Homo sapiens: one gene and its partner. The protein of the gene in region 1 purifies or fractionates together with the protein of each later gene. This does not show direct contact. Each region holds a gene or a part of one and is shown on either strand. Other genes may lie near its edges.

Evidence for each region.
Region 2: the proteins of LYRM2 (region 1) and ACADS purify together in Homo sapiens (affinity purification with mass spectrometry; 2 studies listed by BioGRID and IntAct, with this or other methods). This does not show direct contact.

Annotation. Positions count from the first base shown.
Region 1 is NC_000006.12:89,635,748-89,642,886, reverse strand, and holds the start of LYRM2 (LYR motif-containing protein 2), read left to right. Parts: upstream 1-4,139; 5' UTR 4,140-4,170; coding exon 4,171-4,215; intron 4,216-4,250; exon of another isoform or gene 4,251-4,355; intron 4,356-4,401; exon of another isoform or gene 4,402-4,615; intron 4,616-5,004; coding exon 5,005-5,145; exon of another isoform or gene 5,146-5,162; intron 5,163-5,533; coding exon 5,534-5,614; 3' UTR 5,615-7,139. UniProt on the Homo sapiens protein: Involved in efficient integration of the N-module into mitochondrial respiratory chain complex I.
Region 2 is NC_000012.12:120,735,607-120,740,796, reverse strand, and holds the end of ACADS (short-chain specific acyl-CoA dehydrogenase, mitochondrial isoform 1 precursor), read right to left. Parts: intron 3,812-5,190; coding exon 3,662-3,811; intron 3,442-3,661; coding exon 3,330-3,441; intron 2,961-3,329; coding exon 2,809-2,960; intron 2,749-2,808; coding exon of another isoform or gene 2,609-2,748; intron 2,518-2,608; coding exon 2,347-2,517; intron 2,265-2,346; coding exon 2,127-2,264; intron 1,978-2,126; coding exon 1,882-1,977; intron 1,658-1,881; coding exon 1,601-1,657; intron 1,502-1,600; coding exon 1,349-1,501; 3' UTR 789-1,348; downstream 1-788. UniProt on the Homo sapiens protein: Short-chain specific acyl-CoA dehydrogenase is one of the acyl-CoA dehydrogenases that catalyze the first step of mitochondrial fatty acid beta-oxidation, an aerobic process breaking down fatty acids into acetyl-CoA and allowing the production of energy from fats.

The DNA of each region.
Region 1 (7,139 bases):
TAACCAAGTGTCCCAAAGCATGTACCTGAAGTTATATCATTTTTTATTCTAAAAAGCTATGCAGCTTATATTCTGAAAACTATTAAAACATATACCACTGTTGTTGATGTAATTTGTGACTCTTCTTAATGGAAGATGACAGGATTGTAAAAGGTATGCTAGGGGACTGATCTTCTCTGCTGGATCAGTCAGTCAGCTGTTACTAGTTGATGCTGTGCTAACATGATCCCCTCCTACTTCCATGTTGCTCTTACTACAAAGGTTATCATTTGCATTTATGTCCATGGTAGGCTGAGCTATAATATGCTGGCTTTGCAGCAGAATGAAAAGGATGAGTTGGTGTAGCCTTATAAGGAGGCTTATAAAAATTAATTATCCTCCATAAATGATGATGTTGCATCCCACTCACATTTCATTGGCTAAAGCCCTCTATGGGGCAGGGAGTTTAATCTTCCAGTAGGGTTGAGTCTGGGAGGGAAAGACACCAATATTATGACAATGCTGCAGTCTATTACATCTGCCTTTGGAAGCTCCATCTTTCTTAGACCTCAAACTGGTGTGCCCAGAGTGATTCCCTTGGCCCTGGGTTAGCTCATGAGATCATGGACAGTAGGAATTCCAGGAAGCAGGAACCCAAGAGTGCCATTTTCAACTTGTGCTGCCAACAGGGGCTTGCAGGAGTAGTGATCAATTAATCTGCCATGTTGATAGTTGACATTTGTGCTATCCTGCCCACCCCCCCCTCCCCCAACCCCCCAGGCCTTGGCCAAATAGGTAAGTAAGTAAGTTCTGATATTTAAGGAATGGACAGCAGAACACAAAAGTCCTCCATGCTGTCTTAAAAATCTCACTTTGGGGCTGGGTGCAGTGGCTCACGCCTATAATCCCAGCACTTTGGGAGGCCAAGGTGGGTGGATCACTTAAGGTTAGGAGTTAGTTTGAGACCAGGCTGGCCCATATGGTGAAACCCCATCTCTACTAAAAATACAGAAAATTAGCTGGGTGTGGTGACGCGCACCTGTAATCCCAAGCTACTTGGGAGGCTGAGGCAGGAGAACTGCTTGAACCAGGAGGTGGAGGTTGCAGTGAACTGAGATTGTGCCACTGCACTCCAGCCTGGGCAACAGAGCAAGACTCTATCTCAACAACAACAATAAAATCTCACTTTGGATAACTTCTTCACCACTCCCGTGGCCTCCACCATCACTGAAGCAAAAGGACTGTAAAATTCTCCATCCAGGGGTCCAGGAAATCTACTCTTTGGTATTCTTAATTATATTCAGACATCTGCTGGATGTCACTGTGTTCTAATTCCCCTATTCCAAACCCATTCCTTCAACATTCCCCATCTGGGATGACCACTCCAACAGCCACCCTGTTTACAAACTTGGGACTTAACCTATACATCTGCTTTACTTCCTTCTCCATCTCTATCCATACCCCAATCAAATTAATTAATCATCTTGTCCAGTCAGGCTTCTGGATATCCTGTCCCATCCCTCCCCCTCCCCCTACTGCACTGTGACTGGGACTCTTTTAATCTCTAGCAGGGACTACTTCAATGGTATCCTGGCCAGGCCAGTAACTTCTCTTTGCTTGCTTCACTTCATCCTATTCACAACATCCAAGATCTTTCTAAAAGTTCTGTAGCTGAAAATCCCTTCAAAGCTCTCCCTTGTGAAGAGGGTAATATTCAAGCTTCTTCATGTGACCTGTGAGGCTCTTGCTTGACTCTCCTGTCCCTCCTCTCCCAGCATTCCTGCCAGTGTTTCCATGTGTTGTCTGGAATCCTCTTAGTGATTCTGCGTTTCTGACAAATACCTAGCTCAGACAAGCCCTCCAGGAAGAATAATTTCCCACAGTATGAACTGCAGCATTCTTTGTTAGCACTATATTGAACTTAGAGGTTTTCCTGCCCAAAGCATGAGTCTTTGAGCAAGGAGCATATGTGACTCACGACAGCATTACCAGTGTCTAGCAAGAGTGAGCCCTTTTTTTTTTTTTTTTTTTTTTTTAAATAGAGCTTTGCTCTTGTTGCCCAGGCTGGAGTGCAATGGCGCAATCTCGGCTCACTGCAACCTCCGTCTCCCAGGTTCAAGCGATTCTCCTGCCTGAGCCTCCCAAGTAGCTGGGACCACAGGCGTGCGCCACCAGGCCCGGCTAATTTTTTGTATTTTAGTAGAGACGAGGTTTCACCATGTTGGCCAGGCTGGTCTCGAACTCCTGACCTCAGGTGATCCACCTCGGTATCCCAAAGTGTTGGGATTATAGGCATGAGCCACCGCACCTGGCCTGAGTGTTTCTTGATGGGAAGAAGAAATAATGTAAAAATGTCTTTCTCACATATTAATGTATAGATTCAACACTACTTCAAAATTCCAACCAAGATCACAAGATGATTTGGAGGGAAATGATACAAAACATTTCTAAAGATTATAGAGAACAGTACTAATGGATTTTTTACAAGAAACTAGAGTCCTGCCAGATAATAAAAACATATAAAACAAAAAGTAAAAACTTAACCCTAAATGAAACAATTCTGGACAGATTACTCAGACCCTAAAAGAATTTATCATACAGTCAAAAAGGCATCCATCATAAAGCCCCGAAAAAGGAATGAGTTATGTAATCAATGGTATTGATACAGCTTAACATCTAGAAAAGAACTTAGATCCACGTGATGCTGTAAACCAAAGTAAATTCTAGATGGAGTAAATATTTTAAAAATTAAAGTTTTTAAAAAACGAATTACAAAGGCCTGAATGGGAAATGAAAAGCCTCAAAAGGCACAAAAATACATGATTGTATAAAGTTTCTGTATGTATAAAGAAATGACAAAAAATATAGAGCCCATATAAATGTCCTCATCATAAACGGACCCAAGTCATGAACAATTCACAAAAACAGTATAACTAAAAATGGCGAGGGGTATTTAACTTCACTCCTTTTAAAAAGTTAGCAATTAACTATTACAGCTAATGTATTAGACAAAATTTGGCATATATTATTGATAATATGATCATGCAGTTAGCATCATTCATACAATGCCTGGTAAAGTTCAAAAGAGCTAATGATTAGAGTTCTTACATGTGCCAGGACCTGTTCTCAGTACATTAGAGATACACAACTGAGGTAGATGCTATATTTCACTTTACAGGGGAGGTAATAGGCCAGGAGAGGGGAAATAGCCAGAACACAGCTAGGAATAGGGAGCCCCAGGATGCTAACAGGCGAGGCAAGCAAGTCCCCAGTAAACTAGTAATTGAACATTTTTCGTTCTATTTTAATTCGATACAACACCACTTGGAAAATTAATATGGCAAAGATTCGCTAACTCCACTTCTAGTGATTTAACCCAAAGGCATGTGTATTGTGGGAAAGATAAAACAACTATAAGGAAATAAAAGCAAAAGCCTGAGGCTTAGGGATGTTAGGCTCCTCGTTATTAGTGATGAAAAGTGCTTAAGACTGAAGTGGGTGAGCCATTCAAAGCTTTGTTTCAAATGATCATGAAGGCCACCGCTCCCGGAAAACCTTTGCGCTACAAAAGAACAGGACAAAAACGAGAAAGAGAAAAAACCAACACAAACTGTAAAAGAAATTAACACTTTCAATTTTAGTATTTTCAACTATACACATTTTTAAAGGCTCGAAAGAACATTTAAATACGTTTTCACCTCTTTCCCCCAAAAAAACCTTAACTTTTTTTTCGAGACAGGGTCTCGCTCTGTCGCCCAGGATGGAGTGCAGTGGTGCGATCTCGGATCACTGCAACCTTCACTTCTCGGGTTCAAGCGATTCTCCTGCCTCAGCATCCCGAGGAGCTGGGATTACAGGCACCTTACAGGCCTCCCAGAGTGCTTGGGACTGCAGGTGAGAGCCACCGCGCCCGGCCTCCTTCACTTTCATTTGAACTCTCTTTACCAGGAACTGTGTTAAGTGCCCTACCTTTCTTCTTTATCAAAACGACCCTATGGTGCACTGTTATCCTATTTTACCGACGAGAAAACTTCGGCCAGCGCAGCAGCTAGGGCTCAGTCCCGAAGCCTCGCGCTCTCAGTCCGAGAGCAACCCGCGGGCCGTCTCCTAGGAAACCGGGCTCGCCACACCCCTTGGTCGAACCCCACTTCCGCTCCTGCGCGCTGAGGCTCCGGCGGACCTCTGGTGGACATGGCTGCTTCCCGCTTACCCCCAGCGACGCTAACGTTAAAGCAGGTACCGGCGGTTCTCTGCCTTCCAAAGCAGCTTACCTGGGTCTGAGCTGGATTCTCCATCTGTCCCTATCCCCAACGGGGCGGGTTCCGGGGTCCTGATGCGGCGTGCGCGCCCTCTGAGATTGGCCCGATGCCTGCGGGGCGGTGCTTCGCTCCGCGGGGCCTGACGGGAGGCACTGGCTGCTTCCTTGGTTTGGTGCGATCGCGTGAGACAGCGTCAGGCGCTTGATTTCCCTGAGTCCCGGTGCCTCAGCTGCCCAGTGCCCACGGTAAAAGTCTATTGCACTGAGCTGTGGCAAACAGCAAATGAGATTACCAAAGATTTGAACAACTGTTAATTTAGAAAAAGTGCTGTCGTTGTAATAACAACTTCTAGGAGACCGGCAGCCCTTTTCAGCCCGGTAGGCAGCTCCTGATTTTTTAATGGTTCTTAGGTTTGACAGAGCAGTAAGCAAAAAGATCAGATGAACCTCGTGATGCTTTCTTTAAAACATCTTTTTGAGACAGGGCCTCACTCTCGCCCAGGCTGAGTGCAGTAGCGCAATGAAGGCTTACCTCAGCTTAGACCTCCTGGGCTCAAGTGATCCTCCCATCTTGGCCTCCCAAAGTGCTGGGATTACAGGCCTGAGCCACTGCATCTGGCCAAAAAAAGAAAAAAAAAAGTTTTTCTTTGCCTTTTTCAAAATTGACCAACGAGAAGTACTCTGGTTACAGCTTGGTTTGCTGAAGTAGAACTTTCCAGGCTGGCGATTGTGCAGTAGTAATTGCTATTTACTCCTCCCTTTTACAGTTCGTAAGAAGGCAACAAGTTCTTCTCCTCTACAGAAGGATTTTGCAAACAATTCGGCAAGTTCCAAATGATTCTGATCGCAAATACCTGAAAGATTGGGCAAGAGAAGAATTCAGAAGAAACAAAAGTGCCACCGAAGAGGTGAGAACAAAATCATGGTGAGGACAGATCCTAACCCTTTTTATTGATCAGTGAATTTTTTTTTTTAAGTTTAGCAGACATCTTGGAATATAGTGCCACTGAGCTGGTATATCTTGATCATTGCTTGTAATGTTACCGATTTTAAATTATTATTTTAAAATTTAGTATTTTAAAATATGTAGATAAAAGAGTATCTACACTCTTCAGCATCATCACTTGACTTTTATGTTGTACATTTTATATGTATGTATGTGGAACTCTTTTAGCTTTTCTAAAAGGCAGCAGTTCCAATAGGTAGTATTGGTTCTTGATTTTAACAGATAAAATGGTATAGCTATACCTTGTTTAACCAGGTAAAACTATAACCAGATTTCACTTTATTCTACAGGATACAATCCGGATGATGATTACTCAAGGCAATATGCAGCTCAAGGAGTTAGAAAAAACACTTGCTTTAGCAAAATCTTAACTATAGCATTATTCTGAAGGATTTTCAAAGTCTCCATGTGTTTTGTTGCATTTAGGATTAACAATGGACAACACAAAGCCCAGTCTTACTATTTATATGTACAGTATTTGGTGATAGAGAGCAAAGGAAAAACACATCAGAACAGTTGCCTTAACACTGAAAAACATACCCTGCATTTTGAAAATGTTTATGGATGTCTCAGCAGTTCTTAAAAGAAGAAAAAAACCACTAACAAATGGCCAGTAGATGCTGGACACAATCATTAGGGAAGTGTAAATCAAAACTACTATGAGGTCGGGTGTAGTGGCTCATGCTTGTAATCCCAGTACTTTAGGAGGCTGTGGTAGGTGGATCACTTGAGGTCAGGAGTTCAAGACCAGCCTGGCCAGCATGGTGAAACCTCATCTCTACTAAAAATACAAAAATTAGCTTGGTGTGGTGGTGCATTGCCTGTAGTCCCAGCTACTTGGGAGGCTGAGGCAGGAGAATCACTTGAACCCAGGAAGTGGAGGTTGCAGTGAGCTGAGGTCGTGCCACTGCACTTCAGCCTGGGTGACAGAGTGAGACAGTCTCTAAAAAAAAAAAAAAAAAACAACCCTGAGATTCACATTCACTAGAATGGCTGTAATTAAAAAGAGAAATAATAATAAGTCTTGGTGAAGATGTACAGAAATTACAGAACCCTCATACATTGCTGGTGGGAATGTAAAATGGTGTAGCCACTTCAGAAAACAGACGGTCAGTTCCTCAAAAGATGAAACAGCTGCTGTATGAGTTAGCACTTCTACCCCATGCCCATAGCCATTATTTGGCACTAAAAAGAAACGAAGGACTTATATATACTAAACATGGATAAACCTTGAAAACGTTAAGTGAAAGAAGCCGGTCACAAAAGATCACATGATGATTCCATTCATACGAAATGTCCAGAATAGGCAGAAAGATTAGTGGTTGCCTAGGCTGGCTGTAGATGGAATGGAGTAACTGCTAATGGGTGTAGGGTTCCTTTTCAGGGTGATGAAAATATCCTACAGTTAGCTTGTGGTGTAGGCTGCACAACTCTTGAATATATTCAAATCCACTGAACTGTACATTTTAAATGTAAGGTATGAATTGTATCTCAATAAAGCTGTTATTAAAAAACTCTTGAGGTGTAGGACTGAAAGTATACTGACACCAGGAGATACCCTGGAACTTTCTCGAAAAATCCTGCATTATCCCTGAGGGTTGTTCAGGTACGTTCTTCAGATGTGTCATAGTTTGATAGAGAACTCATCAAAAAGATCACCACTGGGAATCTAGATCTTTGTTGAAAAGGGAAGAGAAAGAGAAGCTTAATGAGCACATTGAAGCACTTACCAGAAAGAAGAGGGAAGACTTCTGGATGAAACCTCTGTGAGTACCTTAACATTCACATGGAAGTAGTAAAAATAAGATTCTGGGTGCAGTTCTCCAATGACAGGAAAAAAAACAAAGAGAATTTGAAGAATACGTCAGAGACAAATACATTACAACCAAAATTGAC
Region 2 (5,190 bases), on another chromosome or scaffold:
AGCTGTGGTTGTGCCACTGCACTCCTGCCTGGGTGACAGTGAGATTCTGTCTCTAAAAAAAAATCCATCCCCAACAGGGGCTCAGGGTCCCTGGGCGCCCCTTTGATGACAGCTCCTAAAGTCACCGTCTCCCTCCCGCTTCCCTCCAGAGACCTCCCAGCAATGCCAGTTTGACTCTCTGCCCTGCCTGCCCGGCGGAGGGCTGTCCCCACCTCCTTTGAAATCTTTCTTTGCTCACTGTTTTCTCTTCCAGCTGCTGAGATCGACACTGGCCCAGAGGGTTAAGAGCTTGGACCTTGGCTTCAGGGGCACCTTTGCCCAGAGAAAGCCCTGCAGGCACCAGGACCAGGGCAAGCCCCCGCACTGGCTGGCCAGGGCCGCCCCCGAGCGCGCTAGTGAGCACAATGGCTGCTTCTCGAGGTTCTGTGTTCTCCCACCTGGGGCTCGAGGCCTCCACAGCTTTGCTCCCCGACTCTGGCAATCTGGGGCCTTCCTTCCTCCTGCCTGGAGGCTGGTCCTGCGTAGAGAACCCCTTCTAGCCCACTGGCCCTGCCTGGCCCACCCTCCCTCCCCAGGGGCCACTCCCTGAGGCCTGCAGGACCCAGTTCCTATTCCTGAACTGCCTCCTTGGCCAATCTGGCCTCTGCCGGAACTCAGGAACCTCCCAGGTGGCCAGGCCCCTCCCCAAGACCCCCAACACTCACAGGGTGAGACTGTCAGAGAGCAGGACTCTGTGCAGAGACCACCATCCCTCCCCGGAGCACCCAGGAGAGGGCGAGGACACAGACTGGGGGACAGGTGTGTTTATTACCCACAGTCAGTCACACAGCATGAATCACCACCCCTGCCTTCATCAGACTTTACAAAGGGCTGAGGGGCCTCTGGGCCAGCTCCATGGCCCAGCCCCACCACCTGCCCAACACCAGGACCCCAGGCCTCGTCATCCTGACCCCAGCCCTGCTCCTGACCTCTGACCTCAAGGAAAAGACAGACCCCACCAAGGGCCTGTCGCACTGGGCCTTCATGCCAGGGCACCAGGGCCCGCGGGAGGACAACTGAGGTGTCCCTGAGTGTCGCTCAGCCCCCCCACAACCCCGCCCCCAGGAGGCCAGGGCCACTTAGATGAGGAACTTGAGGCACAGTGGTGAGGAGGCGGAAAGGCCCAGAGGCGGAGCTGCCAATGGTCGGAGGGCCTCATTCCCATGTGATCTGATCTGGGTGGCAGCACTGAGCCCATCTGGGGTCCCCAGGGAGCCCCCGCCGGGCCGCCCAGTCTCTGAGCCGGGGTTGGGGTGGAGGCCCCTGGCTCCCGCGCCTTCCCGCAGTCCTGGGGCAGTCCGCCGCGGGCTCAGCTCCGGTAGCTCCTGAGCAGATGCCCGGCGATCACCAGCCGCTGGATTTCGCTGGTGCCCTCGTAGATCTCAGTGATGCGGGCGTCGCGGTAGTGCCGCTCTGCCGGCATCTCTGTCACGTAGCCCATGCCGCCCAGGATCTGGATGGCCTGAGATGAGAACAGTGGCTCAGGAGGGAGAAGACCCCGGCGTGGGGAAAGCTGGAGAAGGGGCAGCTGGCCCCCTCAGAGCTCACTGTGGACACTCACCTGGTGGCTGATGGCGGTCGCGGCCTCCGAGGCGGCCAGCTTGGCCATGGCTGCCTCCTAAACATGGGGGTACAGTCAGAGCCTTCCCTTGAGGGGACCCCTCCATCCCCTGCTCCCCCACTCCCTCAGCAGGGGAGGCCTGTGGAGCCTCCCCATGGGGCTGTAAACCCCAGGCCCACACCTCTGACCCACGGGGCCAAGGAGCAGAGACCCGCCCCAACCTCTCCCCGTCCCTGGGCCCACCACATTCTGGGCCATGGCTCGGGGACCCCTGTGGGCACCTTGATGAAAGGCTTCTTGTTATCCTTCAGCATGGCAGCGCGCCAGGTCAGCAGCCGGGCACTCTCCAGGGCCAGGGCCATGTCTGCCAACTTGAACTGCAATAGCCCCACCCCACACCACAGGTCAGCAGCTGCCCCTCCAGGGGACAGAAGGGAGGGGGAGGAGGACGGAGAGCAGTCAGGAGGCCACACTCTCCGCCCGCTGTCCAGCCTCTAGGCCCAGCTCCTAAAGCTGCCACCATTACCTGGATGACCTGGAGCTTGGTGAGGGGCGCCCCGAAGGCCATGCGATTCTCAGCGTAGTTCACAGCACAATCGAGGGCGGTCTGGGCAATGCCCAGGGCCTGGGAGGCGATGCCGATGCGGCCCATGTCCAGGGTTTGCTGTGGGGACCGCCCTGGTCAGTGGCCCGCCAGCCGGGGCGCGGGCCTGGCCTCAAGGTGCCACCCCCACTGCCGGGCTCACCATGGCTATCTTGAAGCCCATCCCTGGCTCCCCCAGGATGCTGTCCTTGGGGATGCGACAGTCCTCAAAGATGAGGTTGGCCGTGGATGAGCCCCGGATGCCCAGCTTGTCTTCTTTCTTCCCCAACGTGAGCCCAGGCGTTGGCATGGGGACCAGGAAGGCACTGATGCCCTGAAAGGAGAGGCGGGTGGTTTTCTCAGAGCTGCCCCTCAGCCACACCCTCACACCAGCACACCCAACACCAACCCGGTCCCCTCCCCACCTCCCTCAGAAGCTCAGGCCTTGACACCCTCTGCCGGCTTCTGGGGAAGGTGCAGGCTTCAGTGGCAGCTGAGGAGGGACAGGGACAGCCCACTTGCCCCAGAGCAAAAATAGGTCCAGTCGGGCCAAGGAGAGAAGGCCCTAGAAACAGAAATGACAGCAGCCCAGGATCCGGCTGAACCCCTCTCTGGGTGGGCCCACCTTGTTTTGCAGGGCTCTGTCCGTGCTGGCAAAGACCACGGCAGCCGAAGCCTCCCAGGCATTGGTGATCCAGGCTTTGGTTCCATTCAGAACCCATGAGTCGCCCTCGGCCCGGGCGGTGGTGGACGCAGCTCCTGCATCACTGCCGTTCCCTGCCCACACAGACCCAGGGCTCAGCGCACGCCCCACCCCACACAACCTAAGGGCACCAGCCTCACTCCCTCCACACCCCTGCTGGCAGACACGAAACCCTATGACTCGGGCTCCAAAGATGAGGGTCCCAAAGCTCTCAGTGATGGGACCAGAGGGCGAGGGGGGTGTGCAGGAGCTGGCGTCTTAAACCAGGGGACCCCGAAGGCAATCTTCCTCCCAGCGCCGCGGTGGCAAGAGCGCTCACCCTACCAACCACACGGGGAGCCTCCCCTCTGGCCTCCGAAGCAGTGGGCAGTTGGCCTAGCACCTTCCTCTCCTCCCCTCTGGGCCTGTCACCCTAAGGACAGGTGAGGGGACAGGGCAGGTACCTGGTTCGCTGAGGGCAAAGCAGCCAATTTTGTCACCACTGGTGAAAGGCGTGACCCACGCCTGCTTCTGCTCCTTGGAGCCAAACTTCAAGATGGGCCCCAGGTAGAGAGACTAGGAGGACAGCGGGGAGCGGTCGGAGGCCCCAGGCCCAGGCGCATCCTGCCCACCTGCGGGCTGCACCTCAGGGCCTGTTCTGTCCAGGGCCTACCCAGTAGGACCAAGGCCTGTGACGTCTCCAGAGAGATCAGGGCTGGGAGCCGAGGCCAGAGCCTGCCCGCTCACGGGAGCCTCCCTCCACCCGTGTGTCCCAGGGGCCTGGGAGGGGGCTCACGTTGTTGACACTCATGATGACTCCGGTGGAGGCGCAGCCACGGCTGATCTCCTCCATGGCGATGGCGTAGGCCAGGTAATCGAGGCCAGCACCGCCAAGCTCCTCGGGCACGTCCATGGCCAGAAGCCCAAGCCCGCCCATCTTCTTCACCTGGGCACAGGGAAGGACGGCACGCCATGGGCAGCTGCCGGGGGCGAGCCCACCCTCCCCAAGCCCAAACCCTCCTGCCCCCGAGGCAGTGCCCTGCAGAAACTCAGGCCATGTGACCCCAGCCACGCACAAGGGATCCCCAAGTCCAGAAGCTGAAGACCCAGTCCCACTGAGGTCTATATGATGGCACTTCTCATTCAAGCTGTCCTGCCCCCGCCTCCACGCCTGCTCCCCGCTCCGTCCACAGCCACGGCAGCGAGCAAGCAGAAGGCACAGGATGCTTTCAGGGAACTCAGAGGTAAGGAGCAGGACAGCGTGAGCCACACTGACCTTCGTCCAGCCCCCTCTGCACATCCACACACACGCACCCTCCCCACCACAGGGCCTCTGCACATGCCACCTCCTATCCCTCAGCTGGTTATTGCCCCTCCTCTCCTTCTGATCGCAGCTCAGGCCTCGCTGCTTTGGGCTGCCATCCCCAGCCTCGCTGAGTCAAATCCTTCAGTCCCTCTCCTGCAGCACTTCTGCGGCTGGAATTTCTCAGGGATGAACGTGCTTCTCTGGATTAAGGTCTTTTGCCTTCACCACGAGGGCACAGACTGTGTGTGCTCTTGCTCACTGCTACATGCCCAAGGCCAGTGAGAGAATGAATGAAGGATAAGAGCTTGGGACTCTTAATTCTGGGTAATAATCATATTAAGAGTGGGCCAGGAGCAGTGATCACACCTGTAATCCCAGCACTTTGGGAGACCAAGGTGAGGGGATTGCTTGAGGCCAGGAGTTCGAGACCAGTCTGGGCAACATAGCAAGACCCCATCTCTACCAAAAACAAAATAATAATAATAGTATTATTACTTTCAGGTGAGTAATATGGGAAATGTGGACCACAGAATCTACCTAACTTCAAAAAGGAACAAGTAAAACCACTTATCTCTGGGAGAGCAGGGACAGGGACAGGGACGGGGACAGGGACAGGGACGGGGACAGGGATGGGGACGGGAGGGAACCGTTGCTTTTCACGAGCCCTTTTATACAATCTCATTCCTGCAAACATGTTATTTTATTTTATTTTATTTTATTTTATTTTGTGACAGAGTATTGTTCTGTTGCCCAGGCTGGAGTGCAGTAGTGCAGATCTCGGCTCACTGCAACCTCTTCCTCCCAGGTTCAAGCAATTCTCTGCCTCAGCCTACCGAGTAGCTGAGATTACAGGTGCCCATAATCACGCCCAGCTAATTTTTGTATTTTTAGTAGAGACGGGTTTTCACCATCTTGGCCAGGCTGGTCTTGAACTCCCGACCTCGTGATCCACCCACCTCGGCCTCCCAAAGTGCTGGGATTACAGGTGTGAGCCACCACACCTAGTCTCAACCATGTTC